4 linked regions of the Homo sapiens genome follow. The protein of the gene in region 3 purifies or fractionates together with the protein of the main gene of each other region. This does not show direct contact. Each region holds a gene or a part of one and is shown on either strand. Other genes may lie near its edges.

Region 1 (3,500 bases), on a different chromosome or scaffold from region 3:
TGGGATTAAAGGCATGAGCCACTGTGCCTAGCCGAAAAAGTTTAATTTATAAATTAGGCATGGGAAGAGATTAACAACAATAACTAATAATAAAGCAGAACAAGTATAACAATATATGTTATAGAAGTTATGTGAATTTGTCTTTTTGGTAAGAGACAGGAAAAAAAGAAATTATGTAAATTTAGTGCCTCAAAATATCTTTGTTTTTTTAGAGAGGGGGTCTTACTATATTGCCCAGGCTGGTCTCAAACTCCTGGCCTCAAACAATCCTCACTTCCAAAAAACTGGGACTACAGGCGTGAGCCACTGCACCCAGCCTCAAAATATCGTATCTGACTGTACTCACCTATTTTCAGACTGCAGTTGACCATGGATAACTGAAACCATGGAAATCAAAACTGTGGATAACGGGGGACTACTGTAGCTATAATAATAATAGTAATTAGGTGCTCAACAATTCCTCAAGATTGCTAGTGTCTAAGGGCCTGGCGGGTAAGATGTATTTATTCAACAGGTATTAATCTATTACCTACCACATGTAAAGCACTGTGGGGAACATAAGATGAGTAAGGCATGGATTCTGCATTCAATTTGTAGAGCTGTAACTGTTGATGAGAGCTAACTGCAAGAAAGATGCTGAAGGTCCCAAATTCTGTAGAAGGATCAAGCTACTTCCTGGGCAAGGCGACATTTAAGTTAGGCTTTGAAGGGTGAAAAGAATTTGGACATAGGAAGACAGGAAAAAAGACATTCTAGGCAAAGAAGATGCCATGTGCAATGGCCAGGAGATAAGAAATCCAGGGCTACATACACAGAATGCAGCACGCTTCAGTTGGCTTTTGCAAGAAGGCATCAAGTGCTGTAGTGGGCATGAAGTGGGCAGTGTAAGTCCATAGTGACTCTGAATTCAGAACTGATTCTGCAGGCACTCAGGCCAGGCGTGGTGGCTCACACCTGTGATCCCAACACTTTGGGAGGCCAAGGCGGGCAGATCACCTGAGGTCCGGAGTTTGAGACCAGCCTGGCCAACATGGTGAAACCCCGTTTCTACTAAAAATACAAAAATTAGCTGGATGTGATGGTGTGCGCCTGTAGTCCACACCATCACATGCCCAGCTACTCAGGAGGCTGAGGCATGAGAATCACTTGAACCTGGGAGGCAGAGGTTGCAGTGAGCCTAGATTGTGCCACTGCACTCCAGCCTGGGAGATGGAGCAAGACTCTGTCTCAAAAAAAAGTTTTTAAACAAATCACACATCAGCAAGAAAAATGAGGGGAAAAGCTCCCTTACTCTGCCATTTTTACCTAGGAACATGGCCATGAGCTTCTTATCCTGAAGCAGGATGGCTCCTTTCACCAAGTACTCAAAGTAGGAGTCCACGCCAGCCCCGATGCCTGCGTCCTGGGCCACCCACTTGCCAGTGAGCACATCAATGTGGTTGCCGACCTGAGAGAGAGAAAGACACACGGTCCCAACGGGAAGGCCGATGGCCAAAGAAGGATCTACTCACCCCCAACCCTGACTGCCCAGGGAGATGCAGGGCAGGTGCCCCAGTGCTTCTTGGGAAACATGCAGACCCTGAGAGGGAAGGGCAATGCTGGATCATGGCCAGCCTTCCTGTACATCTGCATAGTAGAGATGCATCTCATGCACATTTATGAGGACTTAATTATACACATTGAGCAAAAAATGAAAAAGAAAAATGATTTGGAGTGTTTATGTCCTGCCTAGAGTGAGTGTGAGATGGGAGATGAGAATTTGCTGTTGCCGCAATCTGTCTGATTTCTCAGCACCCAGCATGTGATTCCACTATCTGAAGACACAGACGTGCTTTACGTATTTCCATAAATTAACTCAATAAGAACATCCACCAAGAAGCTGACAGAGTGGTTCTAAGGAGAGAAACCGAATAGCTGGAGACAGGGGCAAAAGGGGACTTCACCAATGTCACTGAGTACCCTTTTTTGTATCCTTTGACTTTTTTTTTTTTAATTGTTCAGTCTCTGTAGAGACTGTGAAAAATTGGCAATGCCGGCCAGGCGCGGTGGCTCATGCCTATAATCCCAGCACGTTGGGAGGCTGAGGGGGGCAAAATCACTGGAGGTCAGAAGTCCGAGACCAACTTGGCCAACATGGTAAAACCCTGTCTCTAATAAAAACACAAAAATTAGCCAGGCATGGTGGTGTGTGCCTATAATCCCAGCTACTCAGGAGGCAGAGGCATGAGAATCACTTGAACCCAAGAGGGGGAGGTTGCAGTGAGCCGAGATCGTGCCACTGCACTCCAGCCTGGGCGACAGGGGGAGACTCTGTCTCAAAAAAATAAACAAAGATACGTATTTTTCTATTTTATTGTATTTATTTTATTTTTTGTATTTTTAGTAGAGACATGGTTTCTCCCTGTTGGTCAGGCTGGTCTCGAACTCCCGACCTCAGGTGATACGCCTGCCTTGGCCTCCCAAAGTGCTGGGATTACAGGCGTGAGCCACTGCGCCCAGCCAAATATATGTATTTTTCATATGGCTTAGACCCTCATGGAAGCTGGTAACTTCATCTGGTACTCAAAGAAATAGCTAACTGTTCCGCGTTGGTTTGTGTCCCCCCAGGAGCACAACCTCATTCTGCCTGAAAGTAGTTGATTTGGAAGGTAAGTCCTTGTAAACACCAGTAGAGGAGGGGGAAGTGAGGCAGGGCAAGGGAGGCGGCATTTAAGGGGTATGCCATCAGGCAGGTTTCCACCATGGGAACTGGAGTTCAATCTTGCTGGGGAGCTTAGGAATTCAGTGTAGAGCTCCAGCTTCGGAGTGATCCCACCCAAGGGGCAGGGAACTGGAATGTTTATCCACCAACTCCCATCAGTATCAGTTACCGGCTTGAGAGCTACTCATGGGTAGCATTAAATCCTGGTACCCTCAGCCAAAGGCAAGCAGAGTGGCTCCAGGCACCAGAGGAGACCCACAGGCAAAGAGGCGCAGGTGATGGCAGTTGGAAGACTGGCCAGTGTGCATGGAAATGTTAAGAGTTGAGAGGATATGGGCATGGCACCAACAGAGTCTACTACGGTCCCACTGCTGGAGCAAAACCTGCCTGAGATGGACTAAGGGATTTACTACAGGTCTCCAGCGGGGCACCTTTTTTTTTTTTTTGAGATGGAGTTTCGCTCTTGTTGCCCAGGCTGGAATGCAATGGCGCGATCTCGGCTCATCCCAACCTCCACCTCCCAGGTTCAGGCAATTCTCCTGCCTCAGCCTCCCAAGTAGCTGGGATTACAGGCATGCACCACCACGCCCGGCTAATTTTGTATTTTTTAGTAGAGATGGGGTTTCTCCATGTTGGTCAGGCTGGTCTCGAACTCCCAATCTCAGGTGATCCGCCCGCCTCAGTCTCCCAAAGTGCTGGAATTACAGGCGTGAGCCACCGCACCCAGCCTTAGGGGGGCACCTTCTTAAGGGATTTTCGGGGAGTCCTCACACAAGCTTTACTTTTCAAGCTGGATTAG
Region 2 (3,500 bases), on a different chromosome or scaffold from region 3:
TAAAAGTACAAAAAAAAATTAACCAGGCGTGGTGGCGGGCGCCTGTAGTCCCAGCTACTCAGGAGGCTGAGGCAGGAGAATGGCATGAACCCAGGAGGCGGAGCTTGCAATGAGCCGAGATCACGCCACTGCACTCGAACCTGAGGGACAGAGCAAGACTCCAACTCCAAAAAAATAAAGAAAAACTGGCTTATATTGAAATTATGGTCAGTGTTAGCTTCTCCATTTGCTACCGTTGAGTCACATCTCCTTTGCACTGTGCTTTTTCACCCATACTTTCAGTTTGTAAAGTATTTGTAAGCCGTCTTCCTATCTTCTAACAAAGCACTCCCTTCCCAGCCTTCTTTCACTGATACACTTGAGAAACCTGCTTTCTGTGTCTTAATTAAATTTCTAATAATAATGTCAAATAAGATGTGAAAAGGTATATAATCCAGCAGTACAACACTAGAGAGTTCTTTTGTGGGTTAACAGCACTCCATTAATCACAGGTGTTCAAGCACTTGTGAGTCTGCCTGACAGAAATAATATTTAACTGATAATTTCTTTTGCTTTTTCTCAAAAATGTCATGAAAGCCAGGCGTGGTGGCTCAAGCCTGTAATCCCAGCATGTTGGGAGGCCGAGGTGGGAGGATGGCTCAAGGATAGGAGTTTGAGATCAGCCTGGGCAACAAGTCATCACCCTGTCTTTACAAAATTTAAAAATTAGCCCGTCATGCTGGCACACTCCTATAGTCCCTAGCTACTCAAGAGGCTGAAGAGGGAGGATCACTTGAGCCCAGGAGTTCAAGGTTATTTTGAGCTAAGATCACACCGCTGCACGCCAGCCTGAGCAACAGAGCGAGACTCTCTTGAAAATTTTAAAAAAAAAAATCATGAGAAACTGACAAATTCCTTCCATTTAAACATCTGATAACTTACAGCATGAGCTTTATCAGAATATTGTATGTATATATTCACATAGATTATATAATGTCTCAGCTGATCTATGGTAAAGGGTAAAGCCTTACCTAGGGATTTGGGATTTTTTTTTGGCTTTAGGGGGTTTTTTTTTGGTAGTTTCAGGTTTTTTGGTTTTGTTTTTTTGCACAGACATTTTCTTTGCTCTTCTAAACCTAACCTTTTCCACTCAGACATTTCGACTCTCAGGAAGTGACTTCTTTTCCTCCTTCCTACTCCTGCCTCCTCAGGCTTCATCCTGTTTCCAAACCCTCTTTGATTTGTTCAAGGTGCCTGATTCTCTGTGTTCTATCCTTGAGTTCAGACGACACTCAAGCAGACAGCCTTACTCCACGGATCAGCCATTTATATATCTGGTAGGCAAGAGAATACTCTTCTGTCCTCTGACTTAGGATTTAACTCATGATGCTTGCTATTTTCTTACCTACCCTTCATCCTTTGTTTAGAGCTCCAATCATTATAAACATTCTCATATCCTGTTCTCTGCTATTTGCACATCCCAGTCACATAGGATCACTAATAATAGAAGCATTTACTCAAAACCAAGGTGGTCCCCATGCCTAGAGGCTGAGAATCCCAAGAACAGATTATAGTACAATGATGATCTGGTTAGACTTAGTCATACAAACACATGACAGCTTCCACTGTTGAGATGCTGATAGAATCAGGGCTGTTGTAAGGGCCCAGGAAAGCTATTTGTCCCCAGCTTCACGTTCCTAAAGTCTTAAAATCTAGACTTTTGCGTAAGGGGTGAGGGGGAGTTCTTGGGTGCTTTTCCTTTAAAAAAAAATTTTTTTTTTTTAATTTACCAAAAACTTCAAAAGCAAAGTGACTGGGCCTCTCTAAACCTCTGAAGCCCTTGTTATTGTCTAAGCATTTCTTCATTTTGTTTTATTCTCACGTACAACCCCATGTTGAGAAGGAAGATGCTGCCTGGGACATGGAACCTCTGGGGCCACTGATAAGGGGGTCTCAAGCTGGAAGTTGGCCCACTACTCAAAATTTTTGGCTGTGTTCTTGAATACTATAGCTTACCCCAAGAGGACTTGTGGGGAACAAGAATGAGAGGGTGAACTAGAAAGAAAGGTGATTAGGCATTGTCCACCCCAAAAGCAACTCCTCTAACAAAAGAAGGAGCTTAGAGCAGTTTCCATGGAGAGGAGGAGTGGCTGTTTATCATGGCTGGCCCTCTCATTAGCTCATTACCAAAAAACCTCAAGGGAACAACTAAGAAAAGGTTTTGGGATTAAAATCTGTTTAAAGAAATATCCGGAAATAGGGTTTCCCATAAAAACCTTGCCCATTTTTTCTAAATTCTGATTTTTTTCCTTTTTTTAACCAATAATTTTTGGCTTATTCTACATATCTGGTATTTGACTCTTTGTCAAAAAAAAAGGAGGAAAGAAAAAATAATAGGACTTGAAAGTTTCTTTCTTCATGCTCATCCTCCATTTGACGCACTGTCTGGAACTTAGAATTTAATCGAAGCATCTGTTTTTAAGTTGATCGGTCTTATTTTCTTCGGGGCTTTTTAAAAGTATGAAATCATGAGGCATTTTCTTTATTTTCTTTATTCATGTGGCCTGCTGGCCAGAATTTCTTTAACCAGGTAATTAAATGCTTCTCCTCATAGTCTCTCTGCTCTCTCCCTTCTGTCCTCCAGCCCTGATGTGAAAAATCAATAACCTCATTATCAGTATCTGCAGATGGGAGCTGAGCTCTCAGTGCAACATCTCTGCTCATGAGAATCCGTGGCTGGTACTTACTTTCCCTCGCCTCTTTTCTGGGCTCTACATTCTTAGAGCCTTATTTTCCTCCAAAATCCTTTCTAGCCAGAGAAGGTTTTTCTCAACTGATAAGGCAAAGTCTATGCTTTCCATCTTCTTGGTAGTTGGATTAAATGGGAGAAAAATGGGGTACAATTATATATGTAAAAAAAAAAGAGGGACAGAATTATGATCCACAGGGGAAAACTGAAACGTAAGTGAAAAATGACATGAGAAACTAAGAGTAAGTATATCTTGTTTACATTTTCTTTATTTCACTATAAAATATATTAGGGTTTTAGTCTTAAACTTTATTATTTTTGTCTACAGTCAATAAATGAGAACCAGATTGCAGATGGCAATTTTTGTACGATGGAAATTTTTATTTGACCATATAATTAATAGGATTAGTAGGATGTGATGGCAGAAAATAACTTTCCTAGAGATGAATATGCCTGGTAACTAGCAGAGCAACAAATGTAATTTCAAAATATAAACAGCACAAAAAAAAAAACAACTCAAAATGAATTAAAGACTTAAATGTAAGACCTGAAACCATAAAACTCCTAGGAGAAAACAACAGGGGAAAAGCTCCTTGACATTGAGCTTGGCAATGATTTTTTGGATTCGACCCAAAAACACAGGCAACAAAAGCAAACATAAACACATGAAACTACATCAAACTAAAAAGTTTCCTTACAGCAAAGGAAACAATCAACTAAAAACACAACAAAAATGTGTGCAAACCATATATCTGATAAGGGGTTAATATCC
Region 3 (5,607 bases):
ATTCATTACCTGTTTTTGTGTCTCTGGCACTGCCAGTTAAAAGATATAAATTTTTAAAAATGTTTCTTGCTGTCAAAAAACTTACAGTGAGCTAAACTCTCTCCTAACCTTAATTATCCTAATTATACAATTTAAGAGTTTTATTTCACAAAGAAATAAACACTGACAATGTTTAAATTATAGTGTAAACTCAGATCAGGTCTTGCTGCTCTTCTTCTTGGACAGGAAAACTATCCAATACCAAGGCATTACTCTTGAAATAATGAAAAGAAAGAGAAGAGAGGAGTAAATCTAAGTGCGGGAGGCAGACACCTGGTTAACCACTGATGCCTGCTGATCAGAGGAAACCACGACCCTTCACCTAGACAGCGGTAGTTCTGGGGCTGATCATTTCCTGAGTTTTGTGGCAAAAGAATCAGTTGTTCTCCTTTTACCAACAACAAACTTCAACAGTTGGAGTTTGACAGAGCAATAAAAAACAAAACAAAACAAAACAAAACAAAAAACCTGTAGTATTTTGTCTTTGCCCCTAACACTCTCGCTCATCCACATTCTAAACTGGAAATGACAGATGAGAATTTATATCATTTTTGGTTAAATGACAGGTTTTGGCATTTTCCCTCATTAAGACATCCTAAGTTTAATTCAATTTCCTCATAAAAACGTCTCTGTGCTCCAACCTAAACTGTCTGTAGTTGCAGTCTTATTAAATGCTGAAAAAAGCTGATGGTAATTTTCTGTATACTTAAAGCCAGTTAAATGAATCAGCCAAAACAGTTATAGATTGTATTCAGTTTATTCATAGGCTGTGTGTTTTGAACTTTTATTAAAATTATATTTTTAAACCTGTTTTGAAATATTTCATAATCCATAACACTTTTAGCTATGGAACCTAGGCTCAGAGAAAATATTCTGTCTGAATTCATGCAAATACCCTTAATTCACTGTATTTTGGATGCAAATCTTACTGAAATAGATCTCTGGTTTAAAGCGGATCTTATTTTTAAAAGGGATGCAGTGAATATTACTTTGGCACACATTGTAAGATAAAATGGTTATCTAACAGTGTAATAACGTGAAAGCAAGTAGCAATTACCTAACAGTATAAGTCTGAAAACTCATATTAATCACAAATTACTGACATGTACTTCCAAAGCGATTCCTACCTAGTAACGGTAAACATTTATCTTAATCCCACGTGCAGGCAATATTTTCTGAGGTTACTTTCAGTTAAATTATACTGCATAGCAATAAAGAAAATTCTTTAAAAATACTTTGAAATCTCATGTCTCTTCTAAAGAAATAAAAGTGTAGCTAAATATCTATATACAAATGTGATTAATGATTTTCAGCAACAATTTAGAAATAAACTAAATATCCACCAAAGAATCTTTAAGTTTATGTGGCAGATTTATGACAAAAATACTACACAGGAATTTCAAATTATGTTTTGGGATAATAACAATGTGAGAAACTGCTCAAAGTATAATGGTGAGTGAAAATGCAAAAGATATATACATATACCTATCCAAATGTTAACATTTCTTTCCACTTACTTGTTTAATATAATTTCATTTTCTCATAAAATTCACATATACTTTTCAAAGTCCTTAATATCTACGAGTGCTTCTCATTTTTCACGCTGCATTAATGTACATTTGTCTTTAATATGAGCATTACTACTTTTATAGTCAGAAAATGTGGAATAATAAAGCAAATGCAATGCAATCCGGTCTTCTCTACTTTTTATCACTAAATTCCTAGACGTTGTGGTATTTTTGTACTAATGTTATACAAAAGTCATGTAAAAACTGCCATTAAATAAATCAAACTCTAACAATGTAGAAAAGTAAATAACTTTAGAAGCATACTTTAAATCTCATAAAAGAGAAGTAAATGTATTTCTGTTAGAGTCATTTATATATAGTATATGCATATAGCCTATAAAATTTAGTTGCGGTTTATCATAAATTACATGTCATACTAATACAAAACACTTAGTATTTGCAACTGCGGTTACTTTCTCTGAATTTAATATGACCCGTTACACTTCTTAGACTAGTATATACCTCCATGAGTTTCCACTGCTACTTTATAAATACTAAAATATTTTTAAAAGCCATTTCAGATTGAGCTGTACTCAACTCTAAGAGCTTGCCTTTAAAGCAAACCCACTGCAGCTTCCAAATGCTTGAAAGCATCAGTAGGGTCTTCAGCTATGATGGTCTGAACGGCCTGCTTTCCTTGTCTCTGGTCCTCTTGAGTTTCTCCTAAAGGCATTCAAGCCTTTCCTTTCTCTTCCATCCCCTGCCTCACAAATGAACTTCAATACCCAGATCAAAGAAGCGGGAGGTCAGACTCTTTCCTTTGGGATTTTCTGTTTGTTTATTTTAAAGAACGTTTCCAATGGCAAAGGCCACAGCCCAACTTCTGGACTAGGAGAGTCATTAAGTGTAAGGCCCTTCCTGTCTTCCCATCACGGGACCCTCACAGAGACCTCAGAGTGTTGCCCCGTCCTACAGGCGCGCAAACAGGCTTGATAACTAGCGCGCCGCCTCAGTGTTTGTCCCCTCTCCTCTCTATCCGAGAAGCCCTGTTCAGGTGCCCCCACCAGCACGCCCGCTGTCTGGCCGCCTGGCTTTCCTGTGGGGTGCAGGAGTGCGCCCGGCCTCCTGCGGGTCTCCGGGCGGCGTCACCTCCTCTGAGGCTTCCCCTCCCTTTCCACCCCGTCGCTCTGACTGCCTTACGGAAAGGGCACCAAGGAACTCTCGGGTGAAGCAGCTTCCTGTTCTCAGTGCTTTCCCTCCGTCCGGTGAGATTCCCAGTGAGACTGTTTGAATAAAATCACCTGGCAAAGGAAAAGCCCAAACTTTAGGGACCAGCCACGGCTGAGTAGGGGCTGAGCGGTGGCAGCCAATGAGATCTCGAGTCGGACGTGCAGGCCGCCGTTCCAATTGGGCGGCCGCCCCAGAGTAACCAATGGGAAGCGCGGGAAGGCCGGGAGGGGGCGGGAGCTCTCACCTGCCACTGGTCTAGGTGTCTGAGGAGCATCTTCCTGGCTCAGAGACCTTTTGCTCCAGGTGCTCATGCCGCAAATGGCAATCTGCGCGCGAACTAATTCGCGGCCGCATAATTTAATAACATCGTCCTTCCATTTGGCCGCGACTGCTCTGGAAAATTGGTTCAGTAGTAAACAGAATTCTAGCAGGTGGAACAAGAACAGGCGAGGCATCCTGGGCCTGGTCTCTCCTGGAGGTCTGGGTGTTGCAGCCTTTCAGGACTGCGGCTGCTGTGGCCTACACACCTGGGCCTGTGTGCCTGTCCCGGGCTTTAGGCTGCTTTCCCTACCCGGCTCAACCAGTCTTTAGTATGGGCTATCACTCAGCTTTTAAGGCAAGGTTGCCAGCTCCACCCCTTTCCCACACCCCTCCACAGAATTTTCTCCTTCAGCTCTTGTTCTGCCTCTCCGCCCTTCCTTCATTTGCCCATTCCTCTGTCCTTGGCCCTTTTACAGTTTTGTTTTTCGCTCTTTTGTTACCCTGAAACAACTTTGTATACTTAGGTAAAGTTATTTTAGATATGAAGCCTTTCTTTTTACATACACAGAAATAAAATTGAGATCGCCAATATTCTTACAACCCAGTTTTCCAGAGTGAACATTTGCCAAAAACCCTTCTAACCTAAATAGGATTATAGATTACCTTATAAATTGGATTAATTAGTATAATGTTGGGCATATCAATCCATAAAAATATAATGGATGAATGAATAAATTGTTGATGAGAGGGAAAACTGATGACTTTTAATCTGAATCCAGGTAAAAAGATTAAAATCCCCAGTAACATCATTTTAGGCTTGTGCAGTAATGTCTTTAATTTACAAAACAATTTCTCCATTGGACTTTCCTTCCACTCCTGTGGGAGAAGTTTGATTGTAACTAGTTGTCTAAATATTTTAATTTAAAATTCTAGTCTATGTCTCTGGAGACTGGAGAACACACCACACACACAGAGAGAGAGAAAGAGAGAGAGAAAAGAAGAAGAGAAAGAAGAAGGGGAAAAAAAGCAGTGGACATCCCACATTCCCAGAAATAATATTTTGATAACAAATTACAGCACAAGGATATGTTCATTTGTTTACTGTATTTTGTGTTTGCTGCACCTGGTTAGAGGTGATTCTTTTTTTATTACCACCACCTAATTTAGCATTTTAAAGATCCACACAGTTCTAGATAATATGGTTAGTAGACGACCCTTCTACCTGTAAATTTTTAGTACAAATAGGTTCATTTTTAAAAATAACTTACTTGCTTGTGTTCATAATATACTCAGATTAGTTCAGCTCCATCAGATAAACTGGAGACATGCAGGACGTTATGGTAGCTTTGAAATAAAATAATAACAATCTCTTAGTTACAAACATAACTATGGAATCAAGTAATTCTAATTTCTAGATTGCTGGTGATTTCAGTAGGCCCACTTAACATTGGTCAAATGCCAAGCAATGTGTAATTCTTCAAAAAATACCTGACCAAAGCTATGAGATGGTTAGAGGCAATTAATGATTTTAAATGGATTTTCACTAAAACACACAGTTTGAGAAAGGCCTCTCAAAACTGAGGTTTGAAAATATTTTCGTGGGTTAACAGTCCTTGTAAAAACAATCCACGTGCTAGGCTGTACTCCAAATTAATTGCTCATTAAAAATGTAAATTTCCAGAGTTTTTTGTTTGTTTTTGGGTGATTTTTTTGAGACAGAATTTGGCTCTTGTCACCCAGGCTGGAGTGCAATGGTGCAATTTCGGCTCACTGCAACCTCCACCTCCCAGATTCAAGCGATTCTCTTGCCTCAGCCTCCCAAGTAGCTGGGATTACAGGCATGTACCACCACACCCGGCTAATTTTTGTATTTTTGGTGGAGACTGGGTTTCACCATGTTGGATAGGCTGGTCTCGAACTCCTGACCTCAGGTGATCCACCTGCCTCGGCCTCCCAAAGTGTCCAGGGATGTTTTGAAATTTTATGTTGCCTACATGGTTTTACAGAGTCCTTAAAACTGTCCAGTACAGTGGCCACTTTTCCATTTTACAGAAAGAAGAAACAGATTGAGAGTTGTTCAGGGTAATTTTGGCCAGCACATATGCCAGATGTGGGCTTACCCTACTGCTAAGGATCACAGGCAAATGCAAGATTCACAGTCTTTACAGGCACAACTAAAAGGCATTTCATGTCCTTTAAACAAAAAGGAAACCTTTTTAAGGAGAAACAACAAATATGTCCATGCATACAGCTGTCACATGCTGGAGGTGGGGTTCCAACCCATGTCTACTGGATTCTTCTACAGTAATGAGAGAGGACTTTAATACTCCACTCTCAACAACATACAGATCAAAGACACAGAAAATTAATACGGAAATATTGAAACTGAATTGCACTGTAGACAAAATGGCCGTAACAGATACATGCAGAACATTTTATCCAACAGCAGAATCCGCATTTTTCTCTAGTGCACATTCTCCCGGATAGACCATTTGGTAGGGCACAAAACAAGTCATAATAAATTTAAGATCAAAATCACATCAAATATTGTTCCTGACCAAGATGGTAT
Region 4 (3,500 bases), on a different chromosome or scaffold from region 3:
GGAGCCCTAGAGCCCACCACCAGCTCTGCTAGTGACTCACTGGGTGGCTCTCGGGCCTCTGTTTACCAGTCTGTAAAATGAAAGCAAAGGGCCAGGTTCATGGTCTTCTAGGCAAGATATTTTTAGAAGGAAATTATTTCCCTTATTTAAACAATAAATAAACCAGTCAAGGGTTTTTATTGTCCCTTCAAGTTGTAAACATTCTATAATTATAAGTCAGCACAGTTCCAAAGTGCAGGTAGCTATATACGTTGCCTTGGCTTTACTACCCCACAAGTTTGGCCACTGTTCAGTTCTGCAGCCACACATTTTCATCATCCCAGCTTTCTGGAGCAGATGGTGCCAACCGTCCCAGCTGCTGGATGAATTCCACTGTGGTGGGCTGGGCCTCAGCAGGAAACAGGCTTGGGGCCAGAATCTGTTTTGGAGAAAGGGAGATAATGAGACTGGAGCTTGCATTCTGCCTCCCAAAAATGACAGCTGATGGGCTTCAGTGCTTGTTGAAATGCCAAGTGACCTTCGACCTTTGTCCTTACAGAACATCTGCCATCAAGGCCCTTAATGCTACAGGACAAGCAAACCTCAGCCTGGAGGCACTTTTCCAGGTAACTTGTGTCACAGTGTCCTGCATACCTAGGATGTTTGGTGTTTTGTTAATAGTGAATATGAAAAACTCCGTGAAATCTTCTGGTAGATGAAAACGTTAGGGTAAAAGTTTTATTTGGTTGAAATCATGTATTAAAAGTGGTGGCTCACACCTGTAATCCCAGCACTTTGGGAGGCCTAGGCAGGCAGATCACGAGGTCAGGAGATTGAGACAATCCTGGCTAACACAGTGAAACCCTGTCTCTACTAAAAATACAAAAAATTAGCCAGGTGTAGTGGCGGGTGCCTGTAGTCCAAGCTACTCCAGAGGCTGAGGCAGGAGAATGGCGTGTACCCGGAAGGCGGAGCTTGCAGTGAGCCGAGATTGCGCCACTGCACTCCAGCCTGACAGAGCGAGACTCCGTCTCAAAAAAAAAAAAAATTATATGACATTTTCTCAACTTGCTTTTATATAAGTTAAAATGTCCATCTTCACCAAAGTTTTTCTTTATATTAAAAAGAAAAAGTCATAGTTGTAATATATGTTCATTGTTTAAAAGAAAAAAAGAGAAAGAATTAAAAAGTCAGGCCGGATGTGGTGGCTCACACCTATAATCCCAGCACTTTGGGAGGTCAAGGCAGGAGGATCACTTGAGGTCAGGACTTCGAGACCAGCCTGGCCAACATGGTGAAACCCCGTCTCTACTAAAAATATATAAATTAGCCAGGCTTGGTGGTGTGTGCCTATAATCCCAACTACTTGGGATGCCGAGGCAGGAGAATCGGTTGACCCTGGGAGGCGGAGGTTGCAATGAACCAAGATCATGCCACTGCATTCTAGCCCAGGTGACACAGCAAGACTGTCTCAAAAAAAAAGTCTATATCACCTCAAGGTACACTAAAGAGTGGTTATGTTCTTTCTACAGACATTCTTTTTTTTTCTTTTTTAGTAAAGACAGGGTCTCTCTATGTTGCCCAGGCTGGTCTTGAACTCCTGGGCTTGAGTAATCCTCCCACGTCGGCTTCCCAAAGTGCTGGGATTACAGGCCTGAGCCACTGCACCCGGCCCTCCATAGATATTCTATGTGTATTTCTTCTACCATGTAATCTTCTCTATAAAATGACTTTTTCCTATGCAGATTTTGTCGGTGGTTCCAGTTTATAACAAGTAAGTGGCTTGTTAAACATGTCTGTTCACACATCACTCCAGAACAGTGAACTCACTCACGTACTGTTTGGCTCAGCAAGGATCTGAGGGCTCCTGTAACCAGGCTGTGGGGGCACTCCTGTGGGGGCACTCCTGTGGGTACAGCTGCGAGCAAAACAAAGTCTCTGCTCTCATGGGACTAATATGGGTGGGGTGGGGGTGGTGGTGATAAACAAATATAAATCAGGTGAGAAGTCCATGAAGAAATCCAAAGGTAAAAAGAATAGAGTGACCCTGAAGGAGGCTCTGGGAATTTTTTTTTTTCTTGAGCCAGAGTCTCGCTCTGTCACCCAGGCTGGAGTGCAGTGGCGCAATCTCGGCTCACTGCAAGCTCTGCCTCCCAGGTTCACACCATTCTCCTGCCTCAGCCTCCCAAGTGGCTGGGACTACAGGCTCGTGCCACCACGCCCAGCTAATTTTTTGTATTTTTTAAGTAGGGACAGGGTTTCACCGTTTTAGCCAGGATGGCCTTGATCTCCTGACCTCATGATCTGCCCACCTCGGCCTCCCAAATTGCTGGGATTACAGGAGTGAGCCACTGCGCCCGGCCAGCTCTGGGAATCTTAAATTCAAACTTGGCCTTCCATAGTGTTGTCAAACTAGAAGGAAAAACACTTTGACTGGCTGACCTCTTGATTCCTACATTTGAAATATTCTGGCAGTGAGGTGTTCATCCTAACTCAGTCAGGTAGCTGTGGACAGCCTTCACCTGTTAGGAGCTCCTTAGAAATAAATTCTGAATACCTTTGGTTTTCTTTTATCCTCCGGAGGAATTTCCACTATCTCCGAAGCTGTTCCTTGTTCCACTGACAATTCGCTTAGTTAATGTTCTTTTTTAGCCTGTACCCTTGATAGCAGCATTCTGTGAGCAATGGTTTCTCTAGTGTATAGCCTAGGATTTTACTCACATTCTTTTTAATTTCTTTTTCTTTTTTTTTTTTTTTTAAGTGAAAGCAGGCCAGGTGCGGTGGCTCACGCCTGTAATCCCAGCCCTTTGGGAGGCCAAGGCGGGTGGATCACTTGAGGTCAGGAGTTCAAGACCAGCCTGGCCAACATGGTGAAACCTCGTCTCTACTAAAAATACAAAAATCAACCAGGCATGACGGTGCACGCCTGTTATCACAGCTACTTGGGAAGCAGCGGCTGGAGAATTGCTTGAACCTGGGAAGTCGAGGCTGCAAGTGAGCTGAGATCATGCCATGGCAGTCTAGCCTGGGCAACAGAGCGAGACTCTGTTTCAAAAAAAAAAAGAAAAGAAAACTAATTAGTCAGTATTCTGCTACTCAAACAAATGAGCTATTTGGATAACAAAGCATACCCAGTGGTCTGCTAGTAAACCAGCTCTTTGTGTGGGAAGGGACAAATGAAAAAATTCCCAAATTTGTAGCATTTGTTGACTTCCATGGTGTGAATACTCCCACATGGCTGATTTCAGGCTTATAGTTGGCTCATACACTTCCTGCATATTTAATAATTGGCCCTCACCAGACTGTAGGAGCTAGCTCCAATGCACTATTGACTGTACCCTTCATAGCGGGGCACAATGTTGCCCTTTTAATAGTCATTTTTTAAATGGGGGTTAATAAACTACTTTTGTGTTCTTATAGTTTTTTTAGGTAATTATAGAAGTGATGAATATATCTGGCTGGGCGCAGTGGCTCACATCTGTAATCCTAGTACTTTGGAAGCCGAGGCGGGTGGATCACTT

Evidence for each region. The genes of interacting proteins can lie anywhere in the genome.
Region 1: the proteins of RLN1 (region 3) and EDEM2 purify together in Homo sapiens (affinity purification with mass spectrometry; one large-scale study listed by BioGRID and IntAct). This does not show direct contact.
Region 2: the proteins of RLN1 (region 3) and MAN1A1 purify together in Homo sapiens (affinity purification with mass spectrometry; one large-scale study listed by BioGRID and IntAct). This does not show direct contact.
Region 4: the proteins of RLN1 (region 3) and NAAA purify together in Homo sapiens (affinity purification with mass spectrometry; one large-scale study listed by BioGRID and IntAct). This does not show direct contact.

Annotation. Positions count from the first base shown.
Region 1 is NC_000020.11:35,130,337-35,133,836, forward strand, and holds part of EDEM2 (ER degradation-enhancing alpha-mannosidase-like protein 2 isoform 1 precursor), read right to left. Parts: intron 1,448-3,500; coding exon 1,306-1,447; intron 1-1,305. Other genes in the region: MMP24-AS1-EDEM2 (ER degradation-enhancing alpha-mannosidase-like protein 2), read right to left, coding at 1,306-1,447. UniProt on the Homo sapiens protein: Involved in the endoplasmic reticulum-associated degradation (ERAD) pathway that targets misfolded glycoproteins for degradation in an N-glycan-dependent manner.
Region 2 is NC_000006.12:119,182,262-119,185,761, reverse strand, and holds part of MAN1A1 (mannosyl-oligosaccharide 1,2-alpha-mannosidase IA), read left to right. Parts: intron 1-3,500. UniProt on the Homo sapiens protein: Involved in the maturation of Asn-linked oligosaccharides. Progressively trim alpha-1,2-linked mannose residues from Man(9)GlcNAc(2) to produce Man(5)GlcNAc(2).
Region 3 is NC_000009.12:5,336,515-5,342,121, forward strand, and holds the start of RLN1 (prorelaxin H1 preproprotein), read right to left. Parts: upstream 3,363-5,607; 5' UTR 3,233-3,362; coding exon 3,022-3,232; intron 2,914-3,021; exon of another isoform or gene 2,849-2,913; coding exon of another isoform or gene 2,748-2,848; intron 1-2,747. UniProt on the Homo sapiens protein: Relaxin is an ovarian hormone that acts with estrogen to produce dilatation of the birth canal in many mammals. May be involved in remodeling of connective tissues during pregnancy, promoting growth of pubic ligaments and ripening of the cervix.
Region 4 is NC_000004.12:75,917,014-75,920,513, reverse strand, and holds part of NAAA (N-acylethanolamine-hydrolyzing acid amidase isoform 1 precursor), read left to right. Parts: intron 1-538; coding exon 539-605; intron 606-1,724; coding exon 1,725-1,753; intron 1,754-2,740; coding exon of another isoform or gene 2,741-2,816; exon of another isoform or gene 2,817-3,399; coding exon of another isoform or gene 3,400-3,412; exon of another isoform or gene 3,413-3,500.